Linked DNA regions of Homo sapiens: all the other regions are linked to region 3. Evidence: fine-mapped expression QTL. A gene starts in region 3. Each other region holds a variant in brackets. All regions are shown on one strand. Distances are from middle to middle.

What was found. PIP is the estimated chance that this variant, and not a neighbour inherited with it, causes the effect.
Region 1: its variant is fine-mapped to the expression of RSBN1 in whole blood (TOPMed, PIP 0.90).
Region 2: its variant is fine-mapped to the expression of RSBN1 in whole blood (INTERVAL, PIP above 0.99).

What each region holds. Positions count from the first base shown.
Region 1 is chr1:113,774,491-113,777,254 of GRCh38, forward strand. It overlaps RSBN1 (round spermatid basic protein 1), which reads right to left. Exons shown (of 7, transcript NM_018364.5): 4 at 2,720-2,764. Among named protein-coding and RNA genes, the nearest start is that of PHTF1, 16 kb to the left of the region's middle. The variant C/T (reference allele first, on the strand shown) is at 1,492.
Region 2 is chr1:113,779,231-113,781,994 of GRCh38, forward strand. The region is part of intron 2 of RSBN1 (round spermatid basic protein 1); the gene reads right to left. Among named protein-coding and RNA genes, the nearest start is that of PHTF1, 21 kb to the left of the region's middle. RefSeq lists an enhancer at 1,481-1,530 and a silencer at 1,641-1,750. The variant T/G (reference allele first, on the strand shown) is at 1,663.
Region 3 is chr1:113,811,134-113,813,897 of GRCh38, forward strand. RSBN1 (round spermatid basic protein 1) reads right to left here and starts at 1,343. Exons shown (of 7, transcript NM_018364.5): 1 at 577-1,343. The coding sequence starts at 1,279. PTPN22 (protein tyrosine phosphatase non-receptor type 22) reads right to left here. Exons shown (of 21, transcript NM_015967.8): 21 at 2,678-2,764. AP4B1-AS1 (AP4B1 antisense RNA 1) reads left to right here and starts at 1,479. Exons shown (of 5, transcript NR_125965.1): 1 at 1,479-1,692. RefSeq lists enhancers at 154-683, 408-467, 618-707, 684-1,213, 1,088-1,477 and 1 more.

The DNA of each region.
Region 1 (2,764 bases), 37 kb before region 3:
GTTGAAACCCCATCTCTACTAAAAATAAAAAAAAAAATTAGCCGGGCATCATAGCGGGAGGCTGTAGTCCCAGCTACTTGGGAGGCTGAAGCAGGAGAATGGTGTGAACCCGGGAGGAGGGGCTTGCAGTGAGCCGAGATCGCACCACCGCACTCCAGCCTGGGTGACAGAGCAAGACTCTGTCTCAAAAACAACAACAACAACAACAAAAAACAACTAGCCAGGCATGGTGGCAGGCACCTGTAGTCCCAGATACTTGGTGGGGCTGAGGTGGGAGGATCACTTGAGCCTGGGAGATGGGCTACAGTGAGCCCTGATCATGCCACTGCACTCCAGCCTAGGTGACAGAGTAAGACCCTGTCTCAAAGAAAAAACAAAAACAAAAACCAAGAATTGGTTAAATAAATCTTGATACAACCATACAGTAAAAATTCCCAAGTTTTAAAGTAAACATCACACAAAGAATGGATTTTGTAAAAAGATTATTTATGGCTATATATAATTTGAAAGGTTAATATGCCTAAATGGTGGCTACCTTTTTTTTTTTTTTGGAGATGAAGTCTTGCTCTTGTCCCCCAGGCTTGAGTGGAGTGGCACAATCTCGGCTCACTGCAACCTTCGCCTCCCAGGTTCAAGCAATTCTCCTGCCTCAGCCTCCCGAGTAGCTGGGATAACAGGCGGCTGCCACCATGCCCAGCTAATTTTTGTATTTTTAGTAGAGATGGGGTTTCACCATGTTGACCAGGATGGTCTCGAACTCCTGACCTCAGGTGATCCGCCTGCCTTGGCCTCCCAAAGTGCTGGGATTACAGGTGTGAGCCACCATGCCCAGCCTGCCTTCTTTCTACTCTTCTTTTTTTTTTTCTTTTTGAGATGAGTCTTACTCTGTCGTCCAGGCTGGAGTGCAGAAGCACCATCTCAGCTCACTGCGACCTCGGCCTCCTGAGTTCAAGCGATTCTCATGCCTCAACCACCTCAGTAACTAGGATTACAGGAGCGTGCCACCACACTAATTTTTGTATTTTTACTAGAGACAGGGTTTTGTCATGTTGCCCAGGCTGGTCTTGAACTCCTGGACTCAAGCAATCTGCCTGCCTCAGCCTCCCAAAGTTCTGGGATTACAGGTGTGAGCCACTGCACCTGCCCTCTTTTTACTCTTTCCTATTACTTTTTTCTTAAGTTTATAAAAATCAGGAAACAAATGATGGTCATTTTTTGAGGAAAGATTACAGAACAAAAAATGTATATAGTATTTAACAATTTAATAAGATTTCAAGATTCGTCATCATCCTGCAACAAAAACTGCTATAATCTAGCAATGTGCAGAACTTTCAAATGACTCCTGGGTTTTTACCATGCCACCACCCTGCATCGTACATAATGTTTTCAAAGTATTTTCATACATTTCAAGTACCTAAGATTATTCCATACTTAGCTCAAGTATCATTCTCCTATGAGCCTTAAGTTAAGGTTTAGATTAGTCCATTAAAA[C/T]TCACTTCTGGGCACTTATTTTGAATTGCTATTTTCGTAGTCTAAGCAGGTATAGATCATTTTCAGTCTCATTAAATTAGATTTTTCAAAGTACTAGAGAGTGAGTTAATCTACATTTGTCTTCAAAGTCTGAAACACAAAACATGTTAGCACAATATGAATTACTGAGGCTCGGTCCTATAGAACATTATTGGTTTCATGTAGCAAATACTGGTTACCTAGTATATGTCATGAGGACAAAGATGAATAAAATAGTCCCTGTCTTCCCAAAGCACACCTCAAATGTTAGTAGAAAATAAAAACATGTAAACAAAACTTTAATGAACAGAACATTGTAGGGAACAATTAATTACCTAAGGAAGGAAAGAAAAACTTCACAAAGGAGGTGACGTCCAAGTTAAGTTTTGTTTGGTTTTGGTTTGGGTTTGAGTCAGGATCTTGTCGTGGAGTCCTGGGCTCAACTGATCCTCCTACTTCAGCCTACCAGGTAGCTAGGACTAAAGGCATATGCCACTGTGCCCAGCTCAAGCTAAGTTTTGAAAATGTATTAAGTTTGCTGTGGGACGGTAACCCCAGCACTTTGGGAGGCTGAGGCAGGAGGATCATTTGAGGCCAGGAGTTCAAAGCCAACCTGGGCAATATGGTGAGACCCCATCTCTACAAAAATAAAATACACAAAACAATTTTTTTAATCAGATGGGCATGGTGGTACACACCTATAGCCACAGTTACTTGGGAGGCTCTCCTGAGACCAGAAGTTCAAGAATACAGTGAGCTATGATTGTACCACTGCACTCTAGCTCTGGGCAACAGAGTGAGACCCTATCTCAAAAAAAAAAAAAAAAAAAAAATAGTGCAAAAGCAAAGAGTTATGATAGACTATGGTTTGGAAAGTGAATTCGGTATGGCCGGAGAAGACTAAACACAGATACATCTAGAAGAGGTACAGTTGACCTGATTATTAATGTAAACCACACTAAGGGGTTTGATCTTTTATCCTGCAGGCAGTTAGGGCACAGGTTTTTAAAAAATAAGTAAAAATTAAATTTGTGTTTTAGAAAAATGCCTCACTGTGATAACTGTGATGATTGGACTGAAAAGAGGAACCGACAACTAAAACATTTACTTAAGGGAGCCCAAGACAAATGGTTTTCAAACTGTGCTCATTTTTATAAGCAACCAACTAAAAAAAAGTAGTTTTGCTTATTTGAGAAAAAGAAATATTTACCGTCGTCTTTTGAAGGGTGACTTTGGCATATCTGCTGTAGGGATC
Region 2 (2,764 bases), 32 kb before region 3:
TTAATAGGAAACAGTCTACATAAATGACCATCTAGGATATCTTACCACAATTCTTCACCATTTGTTCTTTAGCAGCATTTTTAGAATCAATTTTTTTCCATAGACAATTTAACATCACCCACACATATATACACAGAAAAAAAGGCTGTAGATCTTGTTCTCAAATAGCAGGGGTAGGGATTTTTTAATTCCTTACAAATCCTCCCCCCAAGATCACTTTAGATGATTCTTAAGCAGCAGCCACCCAGGCCAGAATTACTTTATATATATTCATATGAATTACTTTCCATAAGTTTGGTATGATCATCATGCCATAAAAAGCCAGGGGTGGCAGCATGGAACAAAGGCTCATCATGGGATATAGAGATAAGGAAGGGGAAGAAAGGTAAGTCTTTTTAAATCATTATTCTAACCTTTCTAAGCACTCTAAAACAACTAAAGTAGATTTAACCTTCAGCAACATTTCTAGGAATCATATGCTTTTAGGGGTAATAAGAAATTATCAGTCTCGGCCAGGCACGGTGGTGCATGCCTGTAATCCCAGCACTTTGGGAGGCCAAAGCAGGTGTATCATGATGTCAGGAGCTCAAGACCAGCCTGGCCGAGATGGTGAAATCCCGTCTCTACTAAAAATACAAAAATTAGCCAGGCACGGTGGTGCATGCCTGTAGTCCCAGATACTCGGGAGGCTGAGGCAGAGAACTGCTTGAACATGGGAGGCGGAGTTTGCAGTGAGCCAAGATCGTGCCACTGCACTCCAGCCTGGGCGACAGGGCAAGACTCCGTCTCAAAAAAAAAAAAAGAAATATCAGTCTCCCCCAAACACCTCTCCCAACTATTCCCAGTCTCAGAAATTCCTTTACTAAGAAAGGCTTTCTCTCTATACAGGCATTTTATGGGACAAATGTCCTAAAGACCTATCATGATCTTTTTAAAATCTTTTTCCCAGCCAGAAGTGACTCTTAAGACCTATCCTAATTTAAAGCAGCCAAAACTCAAGACCAATCCTAAAGAAGTACACTGCCATGTGGCAGTTTTCAATTTACTTGGCCTGAGATTATACAACTCAATGCATTATTAATTTGAAGGAATTCATACTACTTTAAATTTTACACACAAAGTGAGACTGAATTAATATTCTTATATCACACCACTCCAAGTTTACCTAATTCAAACACCACTAAACTCAACAGCACTGAACTTGAAGACAACTTAGAAAGGTAAACACCTAGAATAATCAACATGTGACATGAATAAATATGAAGCATCTTTTCCTATTTGCAAAGAGAATAAAAAGTAAACCTAAAAAAGAGGAAGGCGGGAGCAACAGAAGACAAAGAAAGGGTATGACCACAAAATATAGCGACCTCATAATTTCGCCAAGACCAACATGTTTATTTTCATATATACACAAAGAAAAGCTTCTCATCTTACGAGGATCTTCAGGTTCACACCTTTGTGTGAGTACCAATGTTGTATCCATGAGTGACAAAGAATTAACAATGTTCAATTTTTATTTCCTGGCAGAAGAGCCATCAAGTAAACAACTATGCTACAAAATACTAGGACTGGATTTTGAAAGCTGCAATGTATAAAGCCTATTTGGATAACTGTAGCTAACTTAGCCTAGCTAGAGAAAGCCCTTATTAGTAAACCACAACC[T/G]TCCTGTTTTCATTCCTTTACTTACATGAAATTAGACCTCTAGCTTTCTGTGACCTACGTTTTTTTCTCAGTATCAGTCCCCTCCTTCTTTCAGCTGCTTCCATATCTAGTCTAAACCTCAAGGTTTATCCCTCTCTCATAAACACACTCTCATCCTCTATCCCAGTCCTTCCACCAGCCCTGCCTGCAAACCCCAGGCCTGAAACATTCAAACTATCCATCCCACCTCTGGACTTTTCCATTCCATAGGCCAATAAATCTCTTTCATCATTTAAGCCCATTTTAAAATTGACTATCCTGCAACTTGCCATCAAAAGCACCAAGATATATATACCTTTTTCACATAAGAATCCTACTTCTGTAATACTAGTCTGTAGTACCTGTCTCTATTGCCTCACCTCACCTTTTATTCACATCTCATATCATTGCAATCAGGCTTCTGCCCATACCACTCCCCTGAAACAAATCACTGATGACCTCTTCACAACCAAATTCAAGGAATGCTTTGCAATCACCTGCTTTCTTGATTTCCCTTTCCAGGCTTCCTCCTCTCCAAAACGTGGTTGTTGCAGAGTTGGCCCAGTTTTCATTCCACATATTATCTGTGGGTGGTTTCAATTATACTACAGATTTAACTACCACCTGTACCCTACTACATTCCATATCTACATCTCTAACTTAAAACTCTGCCTCAGATTCAGATCTTAACATACAAATGCCTCCTGGGCAGCCCACAGACACCCTCAAATTTAATACCTACAAAACAGAGCTCGTTTTTTTGTAAGGTTCCCTTCCCCTCCCAAACCTTCTTTTTCTCCTTCTGTATGTACTTCGCCGGTTAATAATATTCATTTTCTCAGGTCCTAAATCAGGAATTGATAAATCCCTCTTCCTCATCACTTAAATCAAAATCTATCCTTCTAACTAAATCTGCAGTACCACTGCCTTAATTCAGGAAATTATCATTTCTCACCTAATTGTAAAACCTCTTAACCAGTATCCTTGCTTCAGGATTCCTATCCCCAAGAGCCATCCTACATACTGCTACAAATAATCTAGGAAAAAACATCTTATCATTCAACCTTCCCATTTTAAATCCTTT
Region 3 (2,764 bases):
CTAAGAATTTAAATAGCTAATATGAAAACTTTAAAATGATTTTTACCTCTAGATTAAAAAGAACCAAGATAAACTGCGTCTGATATTTTACCTTGCAGAAGCTAAGTCAACCAGTGAGTCGTGTAACCTTTATATGAATTCCCTCCTGAAAGACTGGAACCATACCCCTGACTATTCTGGAGCAAGGGAGAGCAGATAACTAAAGCTCTCCAGCAAGCAAAACAAGGAGAAGGGATTTTAGGAACATGCCTTTTCTTTGGAAAGGCATTTTTTAGTACCCCACCTACTAATCTAACGCGGCGCGGAAACCTTGCAGAATTTGAAAACAAATGCTGAGAGGCTCCGGGGGACCGGTAAAGGGATTAGCAACTGACAGCTCGGCCTCGGAGCGAGAAGCCTCAAGTAGTTAGATCAAACCGTGTCAACGATCTGAAATCCAGGGTCCACCCCAGTGAGCTTAGAGAAGTACAGCAGCAGAAGGTAAGCAGGGGTTTGGCGTCTTTCAGTCCTAAAGATGCGGGATATCGGAACTGAGAGAGACCTAGAACCCAAGCCGGGCAGTTTGCCTGCTCTCACCTCTCTTGGGGGCTTTGATCAGAGGCACCCCTCCAGTCCTCTCGCCGTTTTCCTGCTTGTCCTTGTGCTTGAGATCGGTTCCGCAGGAGCTGGGATCACCATCGGGGCCGCGGTGGTGATGGTGCTTGTGCCGCTCCTTGTGGCCCTTATGCTTGGGCCCGGCCGCGCTCACCGTCAGAGGCGAGAAGGTGAAGAGGGCCGAGGTGCTTGGGGCCGGGAGAGGGGCAGCGACAGCGGGCCCGGCGGGTGCCAGCGAAGGTGGCGGCGGAGGCGGCAGGAGAAGAGGCTCAACAGGGCCTGGGACAGTTGGGGCTGCATTCGTTGGCGGCAGCGGCCCAGGATGTTGGCGGCTGCGACGCCGCCGGTGAGGGGGAGCGAGAGGGGGCTCCTGGCTCGGCCGCCCCCGCTTCTCCTGAGACCCCCCACTGCTAGATCGGCGCTGCCGTTTAACTCCCCGCGGGGAGACCCCAGCATGAGGTTTCTCCTTCCCCTCTTTGTCCGGCTCCTCCTGCGCCGCCACCGCCCGTACTACGCGCACCGCTCCGACCTGCGCAGCCATTTCACCCACAAACACACATTTAAATGGCCCGACCGCCCCCCCGTCCGCGCATCGCGCAAGCGCCGCCCGCGCACTGCCCGCTGGGCATTGGAGTCTCTCCTCCGCCCTCCACTTGTCGGCCGTTCTTCGTCCAGAGATGAACATGCCGGAAGCGGCCGTTCCCAGCTTTTCTCCGCAGGCCTCTCCAACCGAGCTTCTATTGTAAAGCACCCTATGCCGCGCAAAGCGTCATGGGAGCTGTAGTTCCGCCGCGCCCCCGCCGCGTCCCCGGCTCTGAGTGGAGGAGTGGAAAGGGAGCGTGCGCGAAGTCACGCTTCTGGCTGCGACGCAACCGCCGCTGGGCGGTGAGTTGCCGCCAACCGCCCTAACGGCCGAAACAATGTTAATGGCTTTCAGAGTCTGGCGGCGCGTTCCCATTATCATCTTCCTGTGACCCTTCCTCATTTTACACGGAGGAGGTGGTCTCCACAGTGATTTTAAATTTAATATTTCTCTCATAACCTTTGTGAGATAAAAGAATCTTCATCCTTTTAACTTTGACGAGGGATGAAATGAAGGTGAAAAGAGGATTTAGTAATATGTAAAATAAGGGTGGTTTTGCTGTAAAAATATGATAGGGCCGCAATTCAGAAATGTTTTCAAGCATCTGGGGCATTGCTATGGTTACAACTACAGGCCTACGAAGTCAGGTGCGAGAACTGCTTGGAGTCCTGGTGAGGACGGCCCCTCCTCGCCATCCGGCCACATCCCCTCTAATGCCTGGAAATGTCCAGCATTTATTTTGAATATATCCCTACAGTTGCGAAAAATTGTAGATGGAAAACCACGTTTAAGATTTTTTATAAGTTTTTTTTTTTCAAATCTTAAGGATAAGATTGCATAAATTTGAAAAGTGTGCCTACCGGAGAACACACCAAAAATCATCACTGCTCACTACGGATAGTTGTTGCTCAGAAATTCATTTAGAATTTCATCCTCGCTTTAGCTTTTACCTGGGGTTCTTTTAAGTATTTATTTAGAGACGGGCGGGGCGGGGCTCGGTGTCTCAGGCCGGTAATCCCAGAGCTTTGGGAGGCCGAGGCGGGAGGATTGCATGAGGCCAGGAGTTCCAGATCAGCGTTGGTAACATAGTGAGCCTCTGTCCCTACAAAAGTATTTTTTAAATTATCTGGGTGTCGTGACACGCGCCTGTAGTCCCAGGTACTCGTGAGGCTAAGGTGGGAGGAGTGGTCGCACCACTGCACTCTGGCCTGGGTGACAGATCTAGACCCTGACTCTTAAAAAAAAGAGACAAGGTCTCGCTCTGTTGACCAGGCTGGCCTCCAACTCCTGGGCTCAAGGAATGAGTAGCTGGGTCTACAGATGCACTCATGGTGCCCTAAGTAACTCATGGTTACCTAGAATTCTTTTAGTATATTTGTTTATTGATAAAGACATTTGGAAGTAATTGATTACAATGATATATACTCAGCAGATAAAATTACTGTGGTTTGATTTCACTAGTTTCTGGAGAAGTATTACCTAAACACTACTGCAATGAAGTCAGTTTAACAACCAAAAAGTTTATTGAGTGTCTGTTGGATACATTGTACTACAAGAGACAGATAATAATACTTCATTCAATTTGCC